7 linked regions of the Homo sapiens genome follow. The protein of the gene in region 1 interacts with the protein of each later gene in a biochemical or structural test. Each region holds a gene or a part of one and is shown in the gene's direction. Other genes may lie near its edges.

Region 1 (3,500 bases):
TAGTTAAAAAAAAAAATGCAGATTTTATTTTTTAAAAGTACTTTCATGTATCTCATTGACATAAGCTGGTCACAGTTTGCTTTATGGCCCTTTCTCTTTAGCTGTATCAGTGACCATCTTTCTAGTAAGTTTACTTGCTACTCGGTACACATCCATTCAAATAACTGATTTTTTTGGTGTGGTTTTCTTCTACTTTTTCCTAGGCTAATATATGCCACGTGCCTTTAAGTAGACCTAATTATTTAGATGTTTAGAATTCTTCTCCCTCTGAAGGCTCCTGTTAGTATAATAAATAAATGTTTTAGTAGGAGTTATGCCCTGAAAGTCCCAAAAGAATCTCCGCTGTTTTTGTCAGAATTATATAATTCCCTTTTATCCCCTTAATATTTCACTAACAAATATGGGTCCCAAATCTTGGTAAAACAAATTCTTGTTTTAGCTTTATAACAGACTGGGAGAGCATGGATAATTTGAATTCTCAAATCAGAAATCATATTTGAAACTCTGTAAACATTGCTTTAAAAATTAAAGGTGATAATAAATAGGACAATTGATCCTTTTTCCTGCATTATTTCTTCTGCCACTCTTGGAAGTACTCAGGAGGAATAAGTGGTCAGAAGATAATTGAGAAGAAGCAGGATGTCTGTCTGTATCATTCACAGTAGTGACAGTTGGGAGGGTTCTGCCATGCAATTTAAAAAAGTCAGTTCACAAATTCTTTAGACTTTGGGACTGAAGGTTATAAAAACCTTCATGTGTTGACTGGTTTGCATGAACATCTCATGCTGGGACTAGCTAAAGACTAAAATTGGTGGCAGTCTTACTTGCCAAATAATTGTGGTCTTTGGAATGTTACCAATATGACATGAAACTGTAAAACTTGTTTGTAAAATAATATGCAGACTGGGTAGCATAATGATGTACGGAAGCCAGGGTTCATAATTTCTCAAATGCATCAAGCTATTTAGCTTAAAGAAGTGGTGTGTTCAAATTTTTTTTTTCTTAATTCATGAGATGACCTAGAGTGCCATCTCATGCATTTAGGCTGACTCTTAGTAGTAATAAATATTTGATGATTATCAAATTGAGCTTAATATTCTTTCAGGTTTATTTCAGTTTTCTATCTTGTAGATTAAATTTGCCTCTTATTCTATATAACTTTATAGGAAAGTCATACTTTTAGAGTTATAGGATCTTATAGCTGAAAGGGACCTTACAGGTTGTTTAAGCTTTAAATAATATGTGATTTAAGATGCTTTGAGGATCACTGGTTAAATGTTAGTAAAGAAAGATAAAGAATTTTCCCTGCTGGATGGCAGTACTCAAAAATTTCCCATTGGGAGGCTGAGGCGGGTGCATCGCTTGAGCTCAGGAGTTGGAGACCAGCCTGGGCAACATGGTGAAACCCCATCTCTACAAAAACTATTTAAAAATAAGCTGGGTGTGGTGGTGTGCGTCTGTCGTCCCAGCTACTTAGGGGGCTGAGGCAGAAGGATTGCTTGAACCTGGGAGGTCGAGGCTGCAGTGAGTCAAGATCACGCCTTGCACTCCATCCTGGGTGACAAAGTGAGACCCTATCTCAAAAAAATAAAGATTTTCTGTAGAGATTTCTATCAATAAAATTATGTGTGAGGCTGTCTTCTTCCTCAGTGTCCATAGTAAATACTGTTTTCATGTCTTTTGTGTTTTCTACACAAAGGACATGCAGGTCCTGCCATCTTTATCACAGATGATTATGCCTTTGCCCCAGAGTCATGCTAGCTGGCTCTTTTTTTTTCCTCCCTATTTGAGTCTTTATTTTCCTCTATCAGTGAGAAGAGTAGAGTAATTGAGTTAAGGTCCCTTTCAGCTCTAACATCCTATGATTCAGTTCAGATCATTTGATAAGAGTAGATATCAGATTTTATGGGATGATATGGAAAGAACAGAAAATTCCTTTAGTAATGCCTCCCTAATTCTATTTATTCAGTGCTTTTTTTTTTTGGTCTTTGGTCAGTAAACTGATAAATGAATAATTGCTTTTTACAAATGAGTTTGATTTTCTTGCTCCTATATTGAGTAAGGCTGGCTCTAATAGATCTTATTTTATTTCAGTTCCTGCTACCACATGAGCCCAAGTCGTCACTCTCCCATGCCTAGGTTATTCAACAGTTTTTGAGTTGAGTTGGTTTTCTTGCTTCAAGGATGCCCCCCTGCCCCCACAAATTTTAGATTTCAATGTGTTATCTCCTTGCCCAAGAATCTCCAGTACTTTCAGTGCCTATAACATAGTATCTAAATTCCACAGCTTAACTTTAAAGAACCTCCCCATAGTACATGTCAAAGCAGGATTCAAGGCTGCATGTCTTTACACTCCCTAATTTGAACTTAGGCTGGTCTTTTCACGGTGTCTTGAGTGATTATATTAGTTCACAACTTCAAACTTAGGCTGTTCTTCTTACCCTCCTGCCCCCAGCTCAGTATCACCATGAAGTTTGCTTTGCTTACCTATGTTGTACTATTTCAAGTCCTGCCTTCTCCAAAAGTTTCTCAAAAATGACTTTTGCCAACATATACCTCCCCTTCAGATTATTAAAGAAAATATTTGTAATCTACCCATAACTCTTACCGTTTCACTTATTTTGGCACCTAGTTATTGACTTGTTTTATGGTTTCTTAATTTGCTTTAATTTTCCAACAAGTAATAGATTGTAAGCTCTTAGAGGGCAGGGGCTATGTTCTGTACTTTTTAAGAAGCCTATAGGTGCTGAGCACAGTTCTTGGCACATCATGGGTGCTCAGTAAAATACTTGTTGAATGAATGAAACAAATACACAGGTATTCTTTCCTGCAGTATAAGCCCATAAGTCAGTCAGTGTTAAATGTGACTGTTTCCAGTGGTTACTTGTGACTTTACGTTGTTACTACTTATTCTTGTTTTTAGTGTCTGCCTCTTTACTCTTACTTTTTCATTTGACAAAAATGGAAGATAAATAAGATGAAATAAATAATTTTTGTTTGGAGAATAAAACTAAAATATTTCCATTTGCAGTCGACCCTCTGTATCCAGAGATTCAAGCAACTGCGATGGAAAATAGTCTTTAAAAAAGCAACAACAAAAAAATACAAATTTTTAAAAATAAAGTATAATAACTTTTATAGCATTTACATTGTGTAAGGTATTATAAGTAATGTAGAGGTAATGTAGAGGAAAAAATAACAAAGTAGGATATAGGCCTTGCAGAGAAATTTAGTGTATTGGTACCTTAGACTTACCTGACTGATTTGACAAATTTATTTGTTGCTGTTCCTTCTGAATTACCCTTCCTTTTGAGTAGCTACAGGATCCATGCCATTGAATTGGGCATTAGCCAGTGACAAAAAAGAGATAGAATTTTTGTTTTTTAGGTCATCTGCTCATAATTCTTGAATCTGGGTAACTTCTGGGTACATGTGGATGACTCAAGCAAGTACTTTTAAAAAATATCTTAACTCAGACCTAATGTCTGTAAATTCTTGAC
Region 2 (3,500 bases), on another chromosome or scaffold:
TATGGCTGTATAATATTGCATTGTGTATATAGACCACGTTGTGTTTGTCCACTCAGGTTGCTGTCACCTTTTGGGTATTTTTGAAAATGGTTAATTTTGGCTACCATGAAACATGGGTGTACAAATAACTCTACAAATTTCTGCTTTCCATTCTTTTGAGTATATACCTGGACGTGGAATTGCTGGATCGTATGGTAATTCTATGTTTAACTTTTTAGAAACTGCCATTCTGTTTTCCATAGTGGCTGCACAATTTTACATTCCCACCAGCAGTACACAAGAGTTCCAATTTCTCCACATCCTCATCAGCACTTATTCTTTAATAATAGTCATCCTGAGGGGTGAAAAAGTTATCTTGTTGTGATTTTGATTTGAATTTCCCTAATGACTGTCACTGCTGAGTGCTATATTCATGTGTTATTGGCCATTTGTATATCTTCTTTAGAAAAATGTCTATTCAAGTCCTTTGTCCATTTTTTTAATTGAGTCATTTTTGTTGAGTTGAAGTTCTTTACATATTCTAGATATTACTTATCAGATATAATTTGTGATTATTTTCTATTTTTCGGTTGCCTTTTCATTCTCATGGTGTCCCTTTGATGCATGAAAGTTTTCAATTTTGATGTAGTGCAACTTTTTGCCTTTGCTTTTGATGTCATACCCCAAGATATTATTGCCAAATCCAACATCATGAAAATTTTTCCCCTATATTCTCTTTTAAGAATTTCAGTTTAATCTCATGGTTACGTCTCTAATCCATTCTGAGTTAATTTTTTGTATATGGTATAAGGTAAGCGTCCATTGTTATTTTTTGTGTGGGTATCCATATTTCCCAGCACCTTTTGTTGAAAAGGCTGTTTCCCCCATTGAACAGTCTTGGCACCCTTGTTGAAAATCATTTGATCATATGTGTAATAGTGTATTTCTGGGCTCTCTATTCTGTTTTATTCATCTGTACATCTACCTTTTTACCAGTGCCACAGTGTTGTTGATTATTGTAGCTCTGTAGATCGTTTTAAAACTTGGAGAGGGTTTTTACGGTCCAGTTAACACTTGATTGCCAGATCCAGGGGATTCCATAAAAGGACTTTAAGAAAGTGACATGATCACTGATGCAGGGGACCCTGGACCTCAGTGACTTCTCCTGTTACTCCCTCTTTCCACCCCCACTTTGTCCTGCCCTAACTTGAACATCCCCTTCCTTCTGTAGCCCCTGAAGAAGATGGCCGACCGGATCAGGAAGTATCAGATCTTGAACAATGAGGTTTTTGCCATCCTGAACAAATACATGAAGTCCGTGGAGACAGACAGTTCCACTGTGGAGCATGTGCGCTGCTTCCAGCCACCCATCCACCAGTCCTTGGCCACCACTTGCTAAGCAGAAGATCCTGCAGACCCTTATCTGGAGGAGGAAGAGAAGCAGGAGAGAGAAAGCCACAGCCAGCCTGCCATAGGATCCAACTGGACAACGTGTGGGATGGACCTGGAAACAAGCACCTCCCCAAACACATCACCACTCCCTAGGGCGGGGCCTGTGCATGCTCTCCCATGACATCTCCATGCTGGTTTCTCCATAGCATAAATGAAAAAAAAAAAAAAAAAGTAAACAGGGCAGTGTGTGCTTTTTCTTTTCTCCCCCCTCAACTATATTAAGAACTCCTAGTTTCACCCTTTCTCCATCCCATCATCCCACCTATCTGTGGTTGCTTCCCAAGACCTCCTCCCAAGATAGACATCTCCTACCCAGTGCCCTTGTGTGACCCCAGGACTCAAGTCTCAGACTGTGAACAGATGTGGCCATGCCCAGAGACGCCAGCCTGGCCAGAAGGGCATGCCTCAGCTTACTACTTCATCTCTCCTGGTTCCCTCCCTGCAGTGCCCCGGGTGTCATCTTCTCCCACTCTGGGTACCAGGGATTCTACCACATAGGCTTCCCAAAGCCCCATTCTAACTCCCCTCTCTCAGGGAAGCCCTAGAGAGAGGTCCAAAAAGCATTCACAGCTGTATCACACTCTATGCAGGTGGGGTAGGAGACTGATCAGGCCTGCTGTGGGGAAGCAGTATGTATGAACACAGCCAGAAATGTCATAGTCCAAACAGGATGCTTTCAGGCCATCTCAGCTGCTTGATGGTGAGATGGTTCCCTTATTCCTTCAGGAAAGGCTTAGCATTGGGCCACATAGGGGAAGCAGCTTTGAACAAATCAGTCATAGCACTGCCTATAGCATTAGCCAGTGACCAAATTAGGGACAACGTCTTGGCACAGAATTGCTTATCAAGGAACATTTCCACAAGAAAGAAAATATTAAGGGGTTATTTCCACAGAAGCCCAAAACGTCTTGGAAACACAGAGGTGAGGAGGAGGAATAGTAATTGTCAATGAGCTTTTAATACCAAGATACACCCCCTGCCCCCAAAGAAGAGTCCTCTTTTAGGGAATCAGAACCTTCATTGTCCTAGAAGCTGAAAGATTCTTGGAACATTTTAGCTTTTACTCTCAACTTGCTGTTCTCTTTACATTCCTTAAGTTAGACTTTCGGGTGTGGCTTCTCTCCCAGGGGTAACATTTACTTCCATTTTCTAGACTGAACCAAAAGTCTTCTGCAGAATCTCCCACCGAGTGTGGTAAGAAGGAAGGACAAAAGGCTTTAGGATATAAATTTCATGTTACAGAGCATGTCATTGTCAAAGGAAATCTGTGGCCCTGAGATTTTAAGAACATAAAATGTGACATTTGATATTTCTCCAGCCCAGGGAAGTAAGATGGTTAGCAATGGTTGCCTTAATCAAATGGTCCCATTTTTAACCCCAAAGGAAGTGCCCACAGCAAGAGGTTTGTGTGATGCACTTATGTCCTCCGGTGAGGAAAGGGGGCCACATATGAAAGGCCCCTTAGGTCAGATCCTGAGAGTAGCACATTTGAGTGCAGATTCCTGGGCCCCACCTCAAACCTACTAATTCTGAATCTCTGGGAATAGGGCCAGGAAATCTGCCCTTTCTACAAACTACCCAAGTTGTTCTGTTGCACATCAATGTTTGGGAACCACTGCTGTAAGGGAATCATTCTGGTCACCTTGAGCTTTGAGCTACCACTAAGCCATGAAAGAAAATACATCATACAGGGAAGAGAGAAGGGAGGAGGTTCCAAGTAGTAACTGGCAGATCCTCCTGTCTGGAGGTACCACCTTCTATTCTGGTTTCTGACTTTTCCTTCTTGATGACCATAGATGTGTTCCAGAGGCAAAAGAGACACATTATCCCAGATGGCAGAACATGCTTTCAAAACATATAAAATGTCAAAGTTCCAGATCCTTCTACATCTTTAGTCCTGTCTGAGGATGGTAGCTGGCTCTCTGTAGCTGATAGATGGCTAGAGTTCCATCCAAATCCTTGACCACGACTTCATGGAGATTTGAATAATCTATTTGATGAGATTTCTATTTCAATAACCCACCTCTCTCACCCCACATTCATATCCCTAAATTTGACCCTCTGGGCCG
Region 3 (2,171 bases), on another chromosome or scaffold:
GATTCTTACTGTTTTCTGCCTAATTTGTTGCAGCACAAGCTCCGGGTGGATAAGGCAGCTGCTGCAGCAGCGGCACTACAAGCCAAATCAGATGAGAAGGCGGCGGTTGCAGGCAAGAAGCCTGTGGTAGGTAAGAAAGGAAAGAAGGCTGCTGTTGGTGTTAAGAAGCAGAAGAAGCCTCTGGTGGGAAAAAAGGCAGCAGCTACCAAGAAACCAGCCCCTGAAAAGAAGCCTGCAGAGAAGAAACCTACTACAGAGGAGAAGAAGCCTGCTGCATAAACTCTTAAATTTGATTATTCCATAAAGGTCAAATCATTTTGGACAGCTTCTTTTGAATAAAGACCTGATTATACAGGCAGTGAGAAACATGACTTGGTGTGCTCTGTAAAGCTTGGTTAGAATTTTTTTAAAGTGACATTTTGTTGGCCATAATTTAGACTGTTACATTTTATATAGTGTGGTATAAAATGGGGCATGGATTTATACTAAGTCCATGGAGTTCAGTGGAAGGGGAATGATTTAAAAAAAGTTGTGGTTTTCTAAATAATGTGGCTTGAAAAATAGGTGTAACAGGACTTGGTCAGAAACGCAGAGGCTGTTCAAGTTTAGCTCCCCACCAGATGGAAAATAGGTTAAATTCTGTAAAGATTTAACTTTAACCACAAGAGGGCACAACTGGAGAGCACAATTTTTTTGGTACTGCAGTAAAATTGATTACCTCTTGAGAAGTGTTCTTTTTAACCAGCTATAACAATAGAGTTGAGTATTTTCACCCATGGTTTGAAAAAGTGCCAGAAGGCCACACTGGCCCACATCTGTAATCCCAACACTTTGGGACCCTAAGGTGGGCAGAGCACTTGAGCCAATGAGTTCAAGACCAGCCTGGTCAACATGATGAAATCTCGTCTCTACTGAAAATATAAAAAATAGCCAGTCATGGTGCATGCCTGTAACCCCAGCTACTTGGAGGCTGAGGCAAGAGAATCACTTGAACCTGGGAGGTGGAGGTTGCAATGAGCCAAGATTGTACCATTGCCCTCCAGCCTGGGCGTCAGAGCAAGACTCTCTGAAAAGTACCAGAAGCATTTTTCAGGACTGCCTGTGTGTCTTGGTGATTATGTTAACCAACTGTGTTCAAAAGAAGTACCCATGAAATGCCTCCAGATATAAGGGTGTTTTTTTTTACCCATAAAGCTAAACTGCAAATATTACCCTAGAATTAACCTCTTGTCCTGTGTCAAAAGTCTTGTTTTGCATCTGGATTGTTAAACTGTCAGCTTCTCTCTGACAGTCTCGAACTGTCAAGACAGTCTCAGTTCACAGCCAAGGTGATCTGTTAACCCTCCCCATTTCCAGGGCCAAATCTCAGTTCTTAAGCACGTCGTTTCTTAGCACGGCTTTATTTTCATGCTCTTTATTTCTCTATTTTGTGCAGCCTTACCCCTTTAAAGTCCACTGTGAGTCCTACCCTGCAGGGCCTCTTAACACAGTAGAGTTCATGTGCTACTGATTTGGTGCCTGCCTTCAAACACATGTGCAAGTTTTGTGGGGTTAAAGATAGCCACTTGGTGGCACACCACATTGGAAGTGCTGTTCACCCGGTCATTTGAAACGGTGTTTGACCACTTGGTGCGCAAATGGCCTATCGGATTAAAGGATAGCCAAACCCAAGATTTCTTCAGGTTCTTTACAGCTCCATGGATCTAATTTCAAAATCCTGATCATTACTCATGAATCAAGGTGTTTTGACACAGGCTGTACCCCTTCCTGCAGCTCGTCCCCCGCGGAGTGGCCAGGCTACGGCGGGCGCCGGAAGGGGGCGCACTCCTCGCCTTTCCTCAATGTGTCGGGCAGCCCCGCCTCCCCGCTCGGTTTCCGGGAGTCGGCGGCGATGGCGTCATCACCGAGTGCCGGGCCGACAGCAGCCCGGAGGTTGGCTATGTGACCAGGCAACATGCTGAGCCGGCTTCAGGAACTGCGCAAGGAGGAGGAGACGCTGCTGCGGTTGAAGGCAGCCCTGCACGACCAGCTGAACCGCCTCAAGGTGACCCCGCGGCCCTCTCCTGCCCCTCCTCCATTCCTCCCGAGCGACCATTTCCCCCCAACCTGGGCCTCTGTGGTGACCACCTGCTGCGGCCAGTTCTCCGCTACTCACTAGCTGTGGTGGCGCC
Region 4 (3,500 bases), about 22 Mb from region 1:
GCTAGGACTGCCATAATAAAATACCACAGCCTGGGTAGATCAAATAACAGAAATTTGTTTTCTCCCAGCTCTGGAAGCTGGAAGTCCAAGATCAAGATGTGGGCAGGTTTGGTGTGTTCTGAAGCCTCTTTCCTTGGTTTGCCACCTTCTCACTGCGTCTTCACTTGAAGACTTTCCTCTGTGTGAGCACATGCCTGATGTCTCTTCCTCTTTGTATGAGGACACCAGTCAAATTGGATTAAGATCTCACCCAATGGCCTCATTTTAGCTTAATCACCTCTTTAAAGACCCTATCTCCAAATACAGTTGCCTTCTGAGGTCCTGAGGGTCAGGAATTCAGCATATCACTTTTGCAGGGGACATAGTTCAGACCGTAATACTGTATGTGAAAACAAAAGCCTTTTCTGTCCCTTGAGTTTTCTTTGTGTTTGTAGAAGTCAACACACCAAGTAAAGATTTTAGAAAGTCTGGCTTTTCTATCATGAAAGTTACTTAACATTGAAATTATTCTTAAAAAGAAATTAATTCTGAAAAGTGTGACTTCTTAAAAGTTCATTGCTTGGGTTGGGGTGGGGTAGGAGGGCAAGGCCCAGCAAGTGGGTAGGCATGTGATCCGACACTACTGAGAGCCCAACTAGTCTGGGAAGCCGGACACAGGCACAGCAGATTCTGATGCAGGAGATGACTGACCACACTGGGAAACTGCTGCTGAGTCCCTTCCCTTCTTGCGTCTCTCCTGCACCCGAATCAGCTGCCTTTCCTGCCATGCTCCCATCTCCAAGGGAAGAACCAAATGCTGGGAGGCCCAGTCATCAGTCAGCCTCATTCCCACCCAGGCAGATCCACCCACAGCCACTGAGCAAAGCTGTGGCCCCTCAGACTAGCCTCCAGGTCCATCCCTCCTCTGCCAGGCACTCAGCAGCTTGTACCAGCAGGACCCATCCTCACCCTCTGAAGGACAGAGCTAAGCCCTGTCCACTGACAGCTTTGCTCCCCCAGGCCATGCTGAAAGCCTTGCACACACCATTTCATTTAATCTGCTCAGCAACTTCCCATTTAACAGATGGGAAAAACAAATTCCCATCTGAATCTGCCAGGTGGCAGAGCAAGGATTCAGAACCAAATTTGCCTGACCAAGGTCTCATGTTCTCCCTTTTTCATTCTATAAACCCACTGGTAAAGCCCAAAGGACTCCTTTTTTTAAAAAATTTAATTTTAATTTGTTTTTATTTTATTTTATTTTATTTTTAGAGATAAAGGGCTCACTTTGTAGCCCAAGCTAGTCTTAAACTCCTGGGCTCAAGCAGTCCTCCCACCTTGACCACCCAAAGTGTTGGGATTATAGGCATAAGTCACCACTCCCAGTCCCAAAGGGACCCTTTTGTGTCTACGTTTAAATGCATAAAATAAAATACAGAGAATTACAAAGGAAACTAATTTATTAAAATATGTACTTCTTTATTAATGGTTTAAACAACAAGATCTAGCAATGGATCTAAACGTTGCCAGCATGTTGAAAATTGTTGGTGTGTAGTTGTAATATGATGTGAAATATCACGTGAAAACTATGGGTGAAAGAATATCAGATATTATGGTTTGTGGCCTGCATTCATAATCAAAGGAAATGCTACATTTCAGTTAGTGCTTAGTAGAAATAATATGTACTTTTTTTTCATACAAGTTCATGAACCCTTGAATTCTATCCACAGACTCTGGGTGTGAGGATCCAGGCAGGAATGCCTGGTCTGTTAGGATCCGTGCTCTAGGGCCAAGGCCTTCAGTAAGATCTGGCTGTGGCTCTGATGTGGGCTGTCAAGTCCATGAGAGGAGGGAAGCCCTCCTCTCCCAGGGCCTTGGGGCTCTACTTCTCTGGGGAAGTTGGAGGCTGCCAGGAAAGTAAGTTCCAGTCTGCAACACTAGCAAGCCCCTCTGAAATAGGGCTGATTCTTTTGCCCAGATCTCACAGTGCGGTGGGGTGATGCTGGGAGCCCTTCAAGTGGCAAGCACTCGGCTTGTTTGTGTGATACACAGTTCTTTCACTGCATATATATTTAGTAAGAACCCTACTTTGTGCCAGGTATTGGCAAGACCCCATGGAGTCCATAGGCTGGTGGAAAGACAGCCAAGAAGTGGGCCTGGTGTGGCCGGTGGGCCCAGTGTTGGGGCACACGAGCTTGGTCTTTGATCCAGGGGCTGAGTGAGGTGGCAGTATTGGAGTCTGGGGTTTCTCACACACTTCCCTTGAGGCCCCAGCCTGGAGAAGTCCAGACCGTGCCCAGCAGTTGTTCAGCTAGAAGGGAGGAGAGAGGACATGGCAGCCTCCCTCATCTGTGTTACCATTGAGATTGGAAAGGGACAGTTAATCTGGAGGGGAGTGAGAGATGGGGCCAGGGAAAGCAAGCCATGCAAACAAGTTCGCAGAGGAAGAGAGGAAAGAGCACTTAGTTCTGCATCACCCTCTAAAAAGTGAGAGCCCTCACCCGTAGACCCTCTCCCCACTGTCCATCTGAAGTGGCCAGGAAGGAAAGGCAGCACTTCTTTCAATACCTCAGACCCTTTAATAGCATCTTGCTCCCTGAACCTTGTTTTTGCCTGCTAATTTCTGCAATCTGGCCTTGGCTCTGGCCCCAGCCATGACTGTTGCCATTTCTCCCACACTAGCCCTCTGGACCATGAAGTTAACACGCCCTCCCTGGAGCTGTCATCCAGAAGTTAATATACAAGTCAGTTAGTGCACAGACAGTACTAAAACAGCAGCAACAGAGAATTGTAAAATAATTAAGGAGGCCTTTCAGGGTGGCAGCCCCTGAAAGGGTCCCCATTCCACAGTCTGCCCCCTAAGCTGTGCAGGACAGAAGTTCAATTTGATCTCTGTTACGAGAGCCGAACTCATGACAACCATACCCATAAGAGGTTCCTGTTAGTTGACCAGAATATCCACCCTTTCCTAGATATTAGGATCACAGAATGACAGAAAGTTAATCGGTGAACGTGGAGTCAGACAAAATAGTCTTGAGGGATTTTTCATCAACCAAGCACGTGGATGCACTGTTCCCACAGCCCATCTCTTGGGCCCACCGGGCAGACCAGGCTATCCCCCTTCCTTGGTAAGCCTTTCCCAACTCTGATCATACCATTGATTTGGCTCCAGCATCTTTCGCAGTAGTCAGGCCTGAATCAGATCCCTTTCGTTCCTGCTGGTCCTAGGAGACGTCTGACTCCAAGGCCTCTGAATGTGCCGCTGGAGATGCCCCTTGATGGAGGACCCCCTAACACAGGCACCCAGTCCTGCTCACAATGCCCATGTGGCCCTATGGGTGACTAATTGATGTCATGCCAGAAAGAGCAATTTAAGAAACAGACTTTAAAAGAATCCTTGCCTGAGACAGTCTCTTACTGAAAACAGATTCCAGCCTAGTTAACAGGTGAGCTGTGGCACTAATTCGCCTGCCTGAAAGTGTTTATCAGACCATTAAAAGGGCAGTGAGTGAGTGAGGCAG
Region 5 (3,500 bases), on another chromosome or scaffold:
GGTTTTTAGTTTCAGTGGTAGACTTAATAGTTATAGTGAATTGACTTGGTTACTTTAGAGACTGATTCAAGATTGAGGTTACTGTGGGGATTCATTTGTGTGATTAAAATAATCTTGGTTTTCTTAAATTTTTTTGTAATGCACTGGACAACATGCTGAAATTATGGCTTATTATATTAGTGAATTTTGTATTCCTGAAACAGCATACCAAGAGACACTAGAACCTTTGACAGAACTTTTCTGAAACCCAAATGAATGCCAAAATTAGGCATGCTTTTAAGATGCAAAGGGCTGGGTTTTATCTTTTACTGTCTTTCTTGCTTATTCAACTTCTGTTCTTGCTGTGCTCTGGATATTAGAAAGCACAGCTCTTGAGGAAAAGATGTGACTGGGCCTTTTGAACAGTGTCTCTTTCACCAAGTTCTGCCAGTCACTCTTTGGCCATCTCTCTGTTGTGGACAGTTGTAGGGATTTTATTTAAAATATACTATTTTTTTAAAAAGTTATCTTTTAATGTAAAAATTGTATCTATGAGTAATATCAGATTATAAAGTCTGGAAATAAAGTCTTGATTAGAGAGCAGGTTTGATTAGGACATTCAGGATTCCTCATAACATATAGAATTGGAGCTACTTAAGCGTTGGCCAAAGTACAGAGGAGCCGGGTTCTATTTGTTTTGCTGCTGAGCAATTCCTACCATGTGTATCAGTATTCTAGTCTTCTATAGTAAGATTTTTAAAAAGTCTTTATAAAAACTGGTAAGAGCAAAACTTTCCTAAGGAAATGCATGCTTGTAGTAATCTCATGTATTTCACTTTTGTCCATATTCTATAGATTTTTTAAATAAATAATATTAATGGAAGTATAATGGTAGCCCATTCTAGTTTTGAGTAGAAAAACAGATTTTAAAAGAGCAGATAAGGGTTGAACTTTGTTATAATTTATTCTGTCTAGAAGTCATAGCTTTCCTAATAGAGTTCACTCTTACTCTAAAGGTTCTAGAAACAAAAGTTTATACATTCATAGTCACAGTAATAGGATATACATTGTTAACTATAAATATAATTCTTATAGGTCACCTAGCATCGTTGATGGATTCTTGGAAACTGTGACTTTAGGTGAAACAACACATAATGAAACCAGTTTTACCATAGGGTAATTGATATAAACAAGAGCTAAGTTTCTGTAGCATATATCACCAAACTTCTAAATAAAGACAAAAACACTTCTAATATTAATTAATGAAATAAATGTGAGCTGTAACACATTTAAGAAAGAGTAATAAAAACAAGATAATTATTTACCCAGTTACTTCACTTCAGTCTCAGGTGGCTGGAGCCTATCCTGGCAGCTCAGGGTACAAGGCAAGAACCAACCCTGGACAGGACATCATCCCATCGCAGGGTGCACTCATACCTACACCCACAACTCACTCGCACACTTGCTCATCCTGGGATAATGTAGACAGACCAGTGAACCTAACATGCACATTTTTGGGATGTGGGAGGAAATCCAAGTACCCAGAGAACCCAATAGACATGGGGAGTACCTGCAAACTCCACACAGACAGTGACCCCAGCTTGAAAATGATTTTCTTTTCTCATCAAAGTTAATAATGGGCTGGACGTGGTGGTTCACACCTTTAATCGCAGCGCTTTGGGAGGCTGAGGCAGGAAGATCACTTGAGGCCAGTAGTTTGCCACCAGCGTGGGCAACATAGACCTAATCTCTACAAGAAAAAGTAGCTGGTAGTGGTGGCCCATGTCTGTAGTCCCAGTTACTCCAGAGGCTGAGGCAGGAGGTTCACTTGAGCCCAGGAATTCAAGGATGCAGTAAGCCATGATGAGGGCATTGCACTCCAGCCTGGGCAACATAGGAAGACCTGGTCTCTTAAAAACAAAAAAAAAAGTTATGATGAAAGGACATTGAACAAAATGATGTTGAACAAAAGGATGTTATTTGAGGACCTGCTGTATTAAGTATTTAGTAATTAGGAGACATTTGGCATGCTTAACCATATTCATAAATATAGTGTAATACAAAATAAATCTTATTTATTGCATCTATGTTAGTAGTCTCAGAAGTATTCGAGAGTTATACTGATATAATAGCATATAGGAGAGTAAAACTAATTAGAAAACATTATTTTCTCATAGGAGTTAATGCACTGTAGAGGAATTGTAACCCTTTTTTTAAAGAGACCAAATAATTGACTGTAATGTTGAAGAGGTAAATACAGAAAAGCCCCTCAAGAAAATGTGATCAAATGAAAGATATATATATAAAAGATAATATATGAGATATATCTGACATATGTATGAGATATATATGTCTTATCAATCAACTCCTTTACTAATACATAAACTGATGCATAAACTAGCTAGAAACTGAAATGATTTTTATTAGTGAAACGTAGTCAAGTCTTGAGGACTTACTAAGCACATAACACCCTCCCAGTATCTTGGAATATGAGGGAGCAGTAAGGAAAATCCAGGTTTTACCCCTCAGTTATTCACTGTATAGCTGAAGAAGACAAAAATTATGCACAAAAAGATATATGCTGCAAACCAGCATATATATATATATATACACACACACACACACACACACACACACACACACACACATATATAAATGTATAAAAGATTTGAATAATAGAGAGGAGAGATAGGTATATCATTGTGGGACTTGAATATGAAAAACCTTAAATAGCCTAGAGAATTGATGTCAGAAACAAGCAGCTTATCAGGTACAGATGCTCTTCTACTTATGATGGATTATGTCCTGATAAACCTGTCGTAAGTTGAAAATGTTGTAGTCAAAAATGCATTTAACACACCTAACCCACCAAACATTATAGCTTAGCCTAGCCTTCCTTAAATGTGCTCAGAACATTTACAATAACCTACAGTTGGGCAACCTGATGTAACACAAAGCCCATTTTATAATAAAGTGTTGAATATTTTACATAATTTGTTGAATACTGTACTGAAAGTACAAAACTAAATGGTTGCATGGGTACTCAAAGTATGGTTTCTACTGAATGCATATTGCTTTCGCACCATTGTAAAGCTGAAAAATTGTAAGTGGAACCATCATTAGTTGGGGAGTGTTTATATCAGGAAATGTGTAAACAAAAGTTTGGGATAGAAAATGTGTATAGAATTTTAGGAGGCATTGAGGAGACTGGTTGGCTAGAATTGAGAATGACATTTGCTTGGGCAGATAGTGGATGGTAAGTTTGAAGAGTAAATTGAGGCTAGATTTTGGAAGACCTTTGAACTTCAAGTCTTAAGGATTGAACTTTATTCCCTAGAAAGTAAGGAAACACTAAGATTTCTTCAAGAAATTTCAAGATAGGAAGGATCTGGAGAAAGAAAATTGGAAATTATTATTCATAATAGAAATAAGGATTGAGTAATACTTTATTGTTTACTAAATTTCTTATTTATTAGTTCAGCACATCAGATCTGACTAAGAAACCTGGAATTGTGGCAGCT
Region 6 (3,500 bases), on another chromosome or scaffold:
AATGCAGTGGTGGGATCTCAACTCACTGCAACCTCTGTCTTCCTGTTTCAAGCTATTCTCCTGCCTCAGCCTCCTGAGTAGCTGGGATTAGAGGCACCTGCCACCATTCCTGGCTAATTTTGTATTTTTAGTAGAGATGGGGTTTCACCATGTTGGCCAGGCTGGTCTCAAACTCCTGACCTCGTGATCCACCTGCCTCGGCCTCCCAAAGTGCTGGGATTATAGGTGTGAGCCACCGCGCCCGGCTGTTAGTGTATCTTTTAATTTTAATGGCCTTCCTGTGGTTCTTCTGTCTGAGAATGCCTAGGAGTCTCTTTGTTCTATGCTTTGTTGAAAAAGCCTGGGCTAGGATTCCAGAGATCAAGTTGGTCCTCCCCACTGAGTGGTCTCAGCTCACCACCTCCTTCCCTTGGAATCTTCTTGCCGATGAAGAATGCCCAGGGAATTGGGCTAGGACTAGGGTAGGAGATTTCAGTTTGTGCAAGTCCAAAAACTGATTTGTTTTGTCTGATGTAGTCAGGGGAAATAAAGTTGGCTCTTGTTTAGGGCCTTATAGGCCAAGTTTTTTAGTAAGTTGTAGATTCCCATGGTTTAGACATGAAACATCAAAGAACTGAATTGGCATGTCAGAAGATGGGAAAACGAGACTGAAGAAGATAAATCTTAAACACTTGAAGTGTCTCTGAGTTCATTTCATCAGTGACCAGGTACAGGTTACCTCTGTACCTGTGGGTGAGGGAAGTCTAAAGAAAAATCCAGGCCGGGCGCAGTGGTTCATGTTTGTAATCAGAGGACTTTGGGAGGCCAAGGTGGGCAGATCATTTGAGACCAGCCTGAGCAACATGGTGAGACCCCCATCTCTACAAAAAAACCACAAAAATCAGCTGGGCATGGTGGTGCACACCCAAGTCCTAGCGACTTGGGAGGCTGAGGTAGGAGAATCGCTTGAGCCCAGGAGGTGGAGGTTGTGGTGAGCCGTGATCGTGCCATTGCATTCCAGCCTAGGTAACAGAGCACGAGACCCTCTCGAGGGGGGGAAAAGAAACGAAAAATCCAGGAACAGGTAGGCCTTTTCTGTTCTTTCTGCAATTGAATCTGTTTTTTTTTTGTTGTGTTTTTTTTTTTGTTTCGTTTTGTTTTTTTTTTTTGAGATGGAGTCTCATTCCGTCACCCAGGCTGGAGTGCAGTGACGCTATCTCGGCTCACTGCAGCCTCCGCCTCCCAGGTTCAAGAGATTCTCCTGTCTCAGCCTCCTGAGTAGCTGGGATTACAGGTGCACACCACTGTGCCCAGCTAATTTTTTTGTATTTTAGTAGAGATGGGTTTCACCATGTTGCCCAGGCTGGTCTTGAATTCCTGAGTTCAGGCAATCCACCTGCCTCAGCCTCCCAACGTGCTAGGATTACAGGCATGAGCCACTGCATCTGGCCGAATCTCTGTTGTAGTGGGAATCAAATGATTGCCCAACTCTCAGGAGACATAGCCCTGTTGCTTCTGATTAAGGAAAGGGTTAAGACTTGTAACTTAAATAAATAAACAGAACAAAAAAGGATTGGAAAATGGAGTCCCTGGCAGAGAAAATAGCAAACTGGGCTTATTGAATGCATGCCATTTTGCTACACTTGCTCCTGTTGCCTCCTCCCCCACTGCTGGAGGCGGGAGGTAGAGGATCTTTCTGCTGGAGGCAGGCAAAGGATATTTCTTTGGTTTTTGGAGACAGGGTTTCACCATGTTGGCCAGGCTGGTCTCAAACTCCTGACCTCAAGTGATCCACCCACCTTGGCCTCCCAAAGTGTTGGGATTAGATGTGAACCACCGTGCCCGGCTGGTAGGGGATCTTGAATGTTGCTGTTCCTTTGCCCTTAGCATTTGCACCAGGTTGTCTGCACAGAAACGATGACCCCTCTTGTTGCCTGTTGGAAGTCTGTTTGTTCCAACCCTGTGTTTTCTTTCCTTGCAGCTGGTCCTGGACTCCCAGAAGCGAGTCTTCTCCTGGGGCTTTGGTGGCTATGGCCGGCTGGGCCACGCAGAGCAGAAGGATGAGATGGTCCCCCGCCTGGTGAAGCTGTTTGACTTCCCTGGGCGTGGGGCTTCCCAGATCTATGCTGGTTACACCTGCTCCTTTGCTGTCAGTGAAGTGGGTTAGTGATTTCTGCCCCCTGGCTTATCAGTGCTCTGGTGCGGAACCGTGTAGCCATTGTCCTGTCCCTAGACCACGAACCCCAATTCTCTTTACCTCCCAGTGTTCTTTATTTTTTTGAGACAGGAACTCGTTGTGTTGTCCAGGCCGGTGTCGAACTCCTGGGCTCAAGCAGTCCTACCACCACAGCGTCCTGAGTAGCTAGGACTGCACAGGCACGCCACCACGCCTGGCTCCAGTTATCTTTTAGACAGAACACTTGTTTGCCATCCCGTCCTCTTTTCACCCTGATAATACTGAAGATGAGACTCAGCTCTCGATGTCTGGTCACGCTGGGAACATGTTTTGTCTTCCCTTAGGTGGTCTGTTTTTCTGGGGGGCCACCAACACCTCCCGTGAATCTACCATGTACCCAAAAGCAGTGCAGGACCTCTGCGGCTGGAGAATCCGGAGCCTGGCTTGTGGGTAGGTGGCAGCATCTCCTGTGGGTATGAGGTCTCTTCCTTTCATGGGGGTGTCAGACACACCCATGGGGTGCCCCTCCCTGATGGGGCTCTGTTTCTGCTGCCTGTTGGGCTGTCCTCAGCAGGCCATCTGACACACTGAATCCCAGAGTCCGGGGGTACAGGAGGGGAGAGGGCCCATTTGCTGCTAGAACAGATGGCTGTTCCCTGTCTTGTGGGAAGAAAGTCATTTTGAAGGTTTCTGTTCAAAGAAATAAACAAGCAGAGCTTGATGTATTCCTACGCTGCAGGTTGAAAATTATACGTAGTTGGAAACGTAGCAGGACTTGAGTTGCTGTGACACTGGGAAGACGACATTGTCTTGGCAGCAGTGGTTTGTAGTTCATTTCAGGACACCTGTTGAGTTAGCTAGCACTTCTTGCTGAGGAGTTGGATTTATCAGCTGGCAGGTGTGGGTGGAACAGTATGAGGGGCCTCTGTCGGCGTGGCTTTAATCTGTTGAAGGCTCTAGCCCTGCCCAAATCATTATGCATGAAGGCTGCTCCCTCTGGAACAGGCTTTCACTTTATCCTGATCTGGTCTCCTCTTCCCAAAGCGACCTCCCACTGAGAGAGAGCTGTGCAGGATGCACAGCAAGGTCCCCTGCCTTTGGCCCCTAGGCCTGTCTAAGGGCTTTGTTGTTTTGTTGAAGCGTTGAGTGGCCTGCACGGAACAATCTTAGGATTGAGGAGAAACCTGTTGGCCCTGTTATTGTGTTTGCTACTTGGAATGAGTACGCCAAGGGAAAAGTGGCAGCTCACACTCATGCCCTTGAGCCATAGCTGCGTGGGTGCAGGTCTGGGGCTGCTGGCCCTGCAGTGACAGCCTGCCTGTTTGCAGGAAGAGCAGCATCATTG
Region 7 (3,500 bases), on another chromosome or scaffold:
CAGGGGCAGCCTCTTTGTGGGGACCAAAACTGTAGTCAGCAGTGTCTTCCTCAGGGAGAAGCTGGGAAAATGGCATTATCTGAGGACTTGGAGGGATATAAAATCAGGGTGAGGGAGGCCTGGAATCTGAGGGAAGCTCAAGTTATCAGCACAGGGATGCCCAAAGGCAGATGTGGACCTGTTTTAAGGATCATAAAGATGTTGCTCCCAATTCCTTTGAAGACAGCCAAGGAGAGGCTTAGACTGTAGCCATAGAAACTGGGTCAGAGACCAGCAACAACTGCCCTGTCAGAGTTAGATTTCTGGGAGCAGCTTGAGCAGAGTTCATGTAGGCTCCTTCTCTGAGAGTTTTTTTTTTTTTTAACTCTCAGAGAAGGTGGGACAGGCAGAGGGGAGGGAAGCCTATGAAGAGTCTCTTGACGCCTGGGTCACTGTGTCATTTCTTCTTCCCCCAGACAAGTGTCCCCCAGCCCCACCTCTCCCTGGTGCTGCACCCTCTGTGGTGTTGACAGTGGGCCTGTCAGGTGAGTATCCCCAGGGCTCTGGGCAGGGCTGGTGGGACCAGGGGTGTGTGTCCTTGGCCCCTGTGTCACTGATCCTCCTTCCAAATTAGCCATTCGAATTAAGAAACCTATCAAGACCAAGTTCCGGCTGCCTGTCTTCAACTGGACAGCACTGAAACCCAACCAGATCAGTGGCACTGTCTTCAGCGAACTTGATGATGAGAAGATCTTGGAGGTAACAGGGCCTGGGGTCCAGAGGGCTAAGGTTGAGGGCTAGGGACCTGGTTGCCTTTTGAGGAGATTCTGGTCTTAGAAAAGCCATCAGACAGGGTGAGGCCAGGCTTAGCTCCACCAACCCTTCATTCTTGAGTGTACGTATATTTCTAGTTGTGTCAACACTTTGTGTTTGTATTCAGGAAATATTCCAGAGTGACAGAGCTCTGGGCCAATGCTGGGTGGGCTGTCATGAGGTCCTCCACTAGTATGAGGCTACAGCGTTTTCCTTGCTCACCTATTCCTGCCAGGACCTGGATCTTGATAAGTTTGAAGAATTATTCAAGACAAAAGCGCAGGGCCCTGCCCTTGACCTCATCTGCTCCAAAAACAAGACAGCGCAAAAAGCTGCCAGCAAGGTGACTCTGTTGGAAGCCAATCGTGCCAAGAACCTGGCCATCACCCTACGCAAGGCTGGCCGCTCGGCTGAGGAGATCTGCAGGGCCATTCATACGTGAGGCTCCCACTGACCTGGCTCTGGTCCCTAGTCTGTTGGCAACCCAGTTCTCCACCCAGGAGCCTGGGTTTCCCTAGATTCCAGGTCATCTGACAGAACTCCCTCACATCCCCCTAGTCATCCACTGGCTTGGCTAGAATTTACTGCATCTGTGCTGGCAGTTCAGCCCAGACCTTCACCCAAGGAGCTCTCAGTCTATTGGGAACAGTGCAGTAACACTGAGTGATACCACCAGGATGGTAGAAGTATACAGGCAGCTTTGGGAGAATAGGGAGGTTCATGTAGCTGAGCTTGGTGATGAATGAGGGAAGCCTTCCCAGAGGAGGTAATGTCTCAACTGGGACCTGAAGAAAAGATATGAGTTAGTCCAGTTCAGGGCCTGGAGGGAGAAGCATAGTGCCTTGGGTACTAAAAATTGAATCTGGCTTTAGTGTAGGGAGAGGAGCAGGAGAAGGTAGAGAGTTGGGCAGAAGTCTTGCAGGCTGGACCTCGTAAGCCATGCTCAGGTGTTTGGACTTCACCCTAGGTACAGTGGGAGTACATCAAAGGGCTTATTAAACAGGAGCATGGAGTGTTCCCCCGGGATCATTGCTGGTGCTGTGACAGATGATGCAATGGGTCCTTTGCCTTTGGCTGTGTTCCGTGTACAGTCCCCTGTCCAGTTCTTCTAGGAGCTTGGAGAATAAAAGGGATGAGGGAAAACGTGGAGAGATGTGAGAACTGAGGTGGTCCCTCCCTCCTCCACAGGTTTGACTTGCAGACACTACCTGTGGACTTCGTGGAGTGCCTGATGCGCTTCCTGCCCACAGAGGCTGAGGTAAAGCTGCTGCGGCAATATGAGCGGGAGCGGCAGCCCCTGGAGGAGTTGGCAGCTGAGGACCGCTTCATGCTGCTCTTCAGCAAGGTGGAACGGTTGACCCAGCGAATGGCTGGCATGGCCTTCCTGGGGAACTTCCAGGATAACCTGCAGATGCTCACACCGGTACAGCCCCCACCCAACTCATGGCTCTGGACAGCTGTCCCTCCACCCTCCATCTGCTAGTCACCTCCCCTGCCCTTCCAGTCCTTCTGACCCCTCCCTGTCTTTACCCCATCTCAGCCTGGGGTTACTTCAGTGTTCATATTGTCCTACAGCAACTCAATGCCATCATTGCGGCGTCCGCTTCCGTCAAGTCTTCACAGAAGCTGAAGCAGATGTTGGAGGTGGGAAGAGGTTGTGAACAGGGGTGCTGGGGGTTTTCAGGTCCTAGGTGGGGGCCTGGGGCTATACAGAGAGGAAGAAGGAGCCTTCAGGACCTGAGCCTGACCTGCCTCCCACACATTCTTTGGACAGATCATACTTGCACTGGGGAACTACATGAACAGCAGCAAGCGGGGAGCTGTGTATGGCTTCAAGCTCCAGAGCCTGGATCTGGTAAGATGGTGAGGGCAGCGTGGGCCAGGAAGCCTGGGGGGCAGCAGTTGTGGAGCCAGAGTGCTTAGCTCTTGTGCACCGCCCTCACCCCCTCTCCTAGCTGCTGGATACCAAGTCCACTGACCGGAAGATGACACTGCTTCATTTCATCGCCTTGACAGTGAAGGAGAAATACCCAGACCTGGCTAACTTCTGGCATGAGCTGCACTTTGTTGAGAAGGCTGCAGCAGGTGAGGAGAGCCTGGCTGGGTGGGCCTGCCCTCACATCCAGCCCAGGACAATCCCAGGAAGCTATGAGGAGAGAGAACACTTGGGTCCATTTGTTTCTGGCTTTTGTTATCTTCTTTCTGACCACTTCAAAGCTTTCCGCTGGAGCCTTAAGCAGGGGCCACTCCAGAGGGAGCCTTCCTCCAGGCGCCAGGCCTGGCCCAGCCCAGCCCTTCCCAGCTAGGTACAGTGGGAGCAGGAACAAGAAGGGGAGCAGTCGCTCTTTACTCCCAACTCCCTCAAGCTGGCCCCAGAGGTCTTGTGTTTTGTGTATGATGTATGTGAAGTGCTTAGAAAAAAATCATAAAGCTCTCTATAGACATGAGGTAGCTGTTATTTCTGCCCCACCCATGAACCCTAGGGCAGGCCTGAGGCAGTTTCATTTTGGAGACCAGCAGTCTCTGTGGCTTGCCTGCCTTTGCTACTGTGTTCTTTGGGGTCACAAGCTCAGTTTCCATTCCATTCCCTCCCCCTGTGAGGGATCAGCTAGCTTGGTGTGTACTTCCTTATGTCCATACAGGTATGTGAACCTGAGTGAGCCCATGCTGAGGGGGAGGGCCAGAGTTTGATATAGCTCTGGGCTGGG

What was found.
Region 2: the proteins of PRPF40A (region 1) and CYFIP2 form a complex in vitro, tested with the Homo sapiens proteins (one study listed by BioGRID).
Region 3: the proteins of PRPF40A (region 1) and RPL4 form a complex in vitro, tested with the Homo sapiens proteins (one study listed by BioGRID).
Region 4: the proteins of PRPF40A (region 1) and WIPF1 form a complex in vitro, tested with the Homo sapiens proteins (one study listed by BioGRID).
Region 5: the proteins of PRPF40A (region 1) and WASL form a complex in vitro, tested with the Homo sapiens proteins (one study listed by BioGRID).
Region 6: the proteins of PRPF40A (region 1) and RCC2 form a complex in vitro, tested with the Homo sapiens proteins (one study listed by BioGRID).
Region 7: the proteins of PRPF40A (region 1) and FMNL3 interact in far-western blotting, tested with the Homo sapiens proteins (one study listed by BioGRID).

The regions. Positions count from the first base shown.
Region 1 is NC_000002.12:152,710,962-152,714,461, reverse strand, and holds part of PRPF40A (pre-mRNA-processing factor 40 homolog A), read left to right. Parts: intron 1-2,094; exon of another isoform or gene 2,095-2,158; intron 2,159-3,500.
Region 2 is NC_000005.10:157,391,623-157,395,122, forward strand, and holds part of CYFIP2 (cytoplasmic FMR1-interacting protein 2), read left to right. Parts: intron 1-1,210; coding exon 1,211-1,378; 3' UTR 1,379-3,500. UniProt on the Homo sapiens protein: Involved in T-cell adhesion and p53/TP53-dependent induction of apoptosis. Does not bind RNA. As component of the WAVE1 complex, required for BDNF-NTRK2 endocytic trafficking and signaling from early endosomes.
Region 3 is NC_000015.10:66,497,515-66,499,685, reverse strand, and holds the end of RPL4 (large ribosomal subunit protein uL4), read left to right. Parts: intron 1-33; coding exon 34-279; 3' UTR 280-1,671; downstream 1,672-2,171. Other genes in the region: SNAPC5 (snRNA-activating protein complex subunit 5), read left to right, coding at 1,955-2,044. UniProt on the Homo sapiens protein: Component of the large ribosomal subunit. The ribosome is a large ribonucleoprotein complex responsible for the synthesis of proteins in the cell.
Region 4 is NC_000002.12:174,587,805-174,591,304, reverse strand, and holds part of WIPF1 (WAS/WASL-interacting protein family member 1), read left to right. Parts: intron 1-3,500. UniProt on the Homo sapiens protein: Plays a role in the reorganization of the actin cytoskeleton. Contributes with NCK1 and GRB2 in the recruitment and activation of WASL.
Region 5 is NC_000007.14:123,739,004-123,742,503, reverse strand, and holds part of WASL (actin nucleation-promoting factor WASL), read left to right. Parts: intron 1-3,500. UniProt on the Homo sapiens protein: Regulates actin polymerization by stimulating the actin-nucleating activity of the Arp2/3 complex. Involved in various processes, such as mitosis and cytokinesis, via its role in the regulation of actin polymerization.
Region 6 is NC_000001.11:17,412,178-17,415,677, reverse strand, and holds part of RCC2 (protein RCC2), read left to right. Parts: intron 1-1,960; coding exon 1,961-2,141; intron 2,142-2,499; coding exon 2,500-2,605; intron 2,606-3,483; coding exon 3,484-3,500. UniProt on the Homo sapiens protein: Multifunctional protein that may affect its functions by regulating the activity of small GTPases, such as RAC1 and RALA. Required for normal progress through the cell cycle, both during interphase and during mitosis.
Region 7 is NC_000012.12:49,648,406-49,651,905, reverse strand, and holds part of FMNL3 (formin-like protein 3), read left to right. Parts: intron 1-455; coding exon 456-524; intron 525-613; coding exon 614-738; intron 739-1,027; coding exon 1,028-1,230; intron 1,231-1,980; coding exon 1,981-2,215; intron 2,216-2,367; coding exon 2,368-2,436; intron 2,437-2,566; coding exon 2,567-2,647; intron 2,648-2,747; coding exon 2,748-2,877; intron 2,878-3,500. UniProt on the Homo sapiens protein: Plays a role in the regulation of cell morphology and cytoskeletal organization. Required in the control of cell shape and migration. Required for developmental angiogenesis.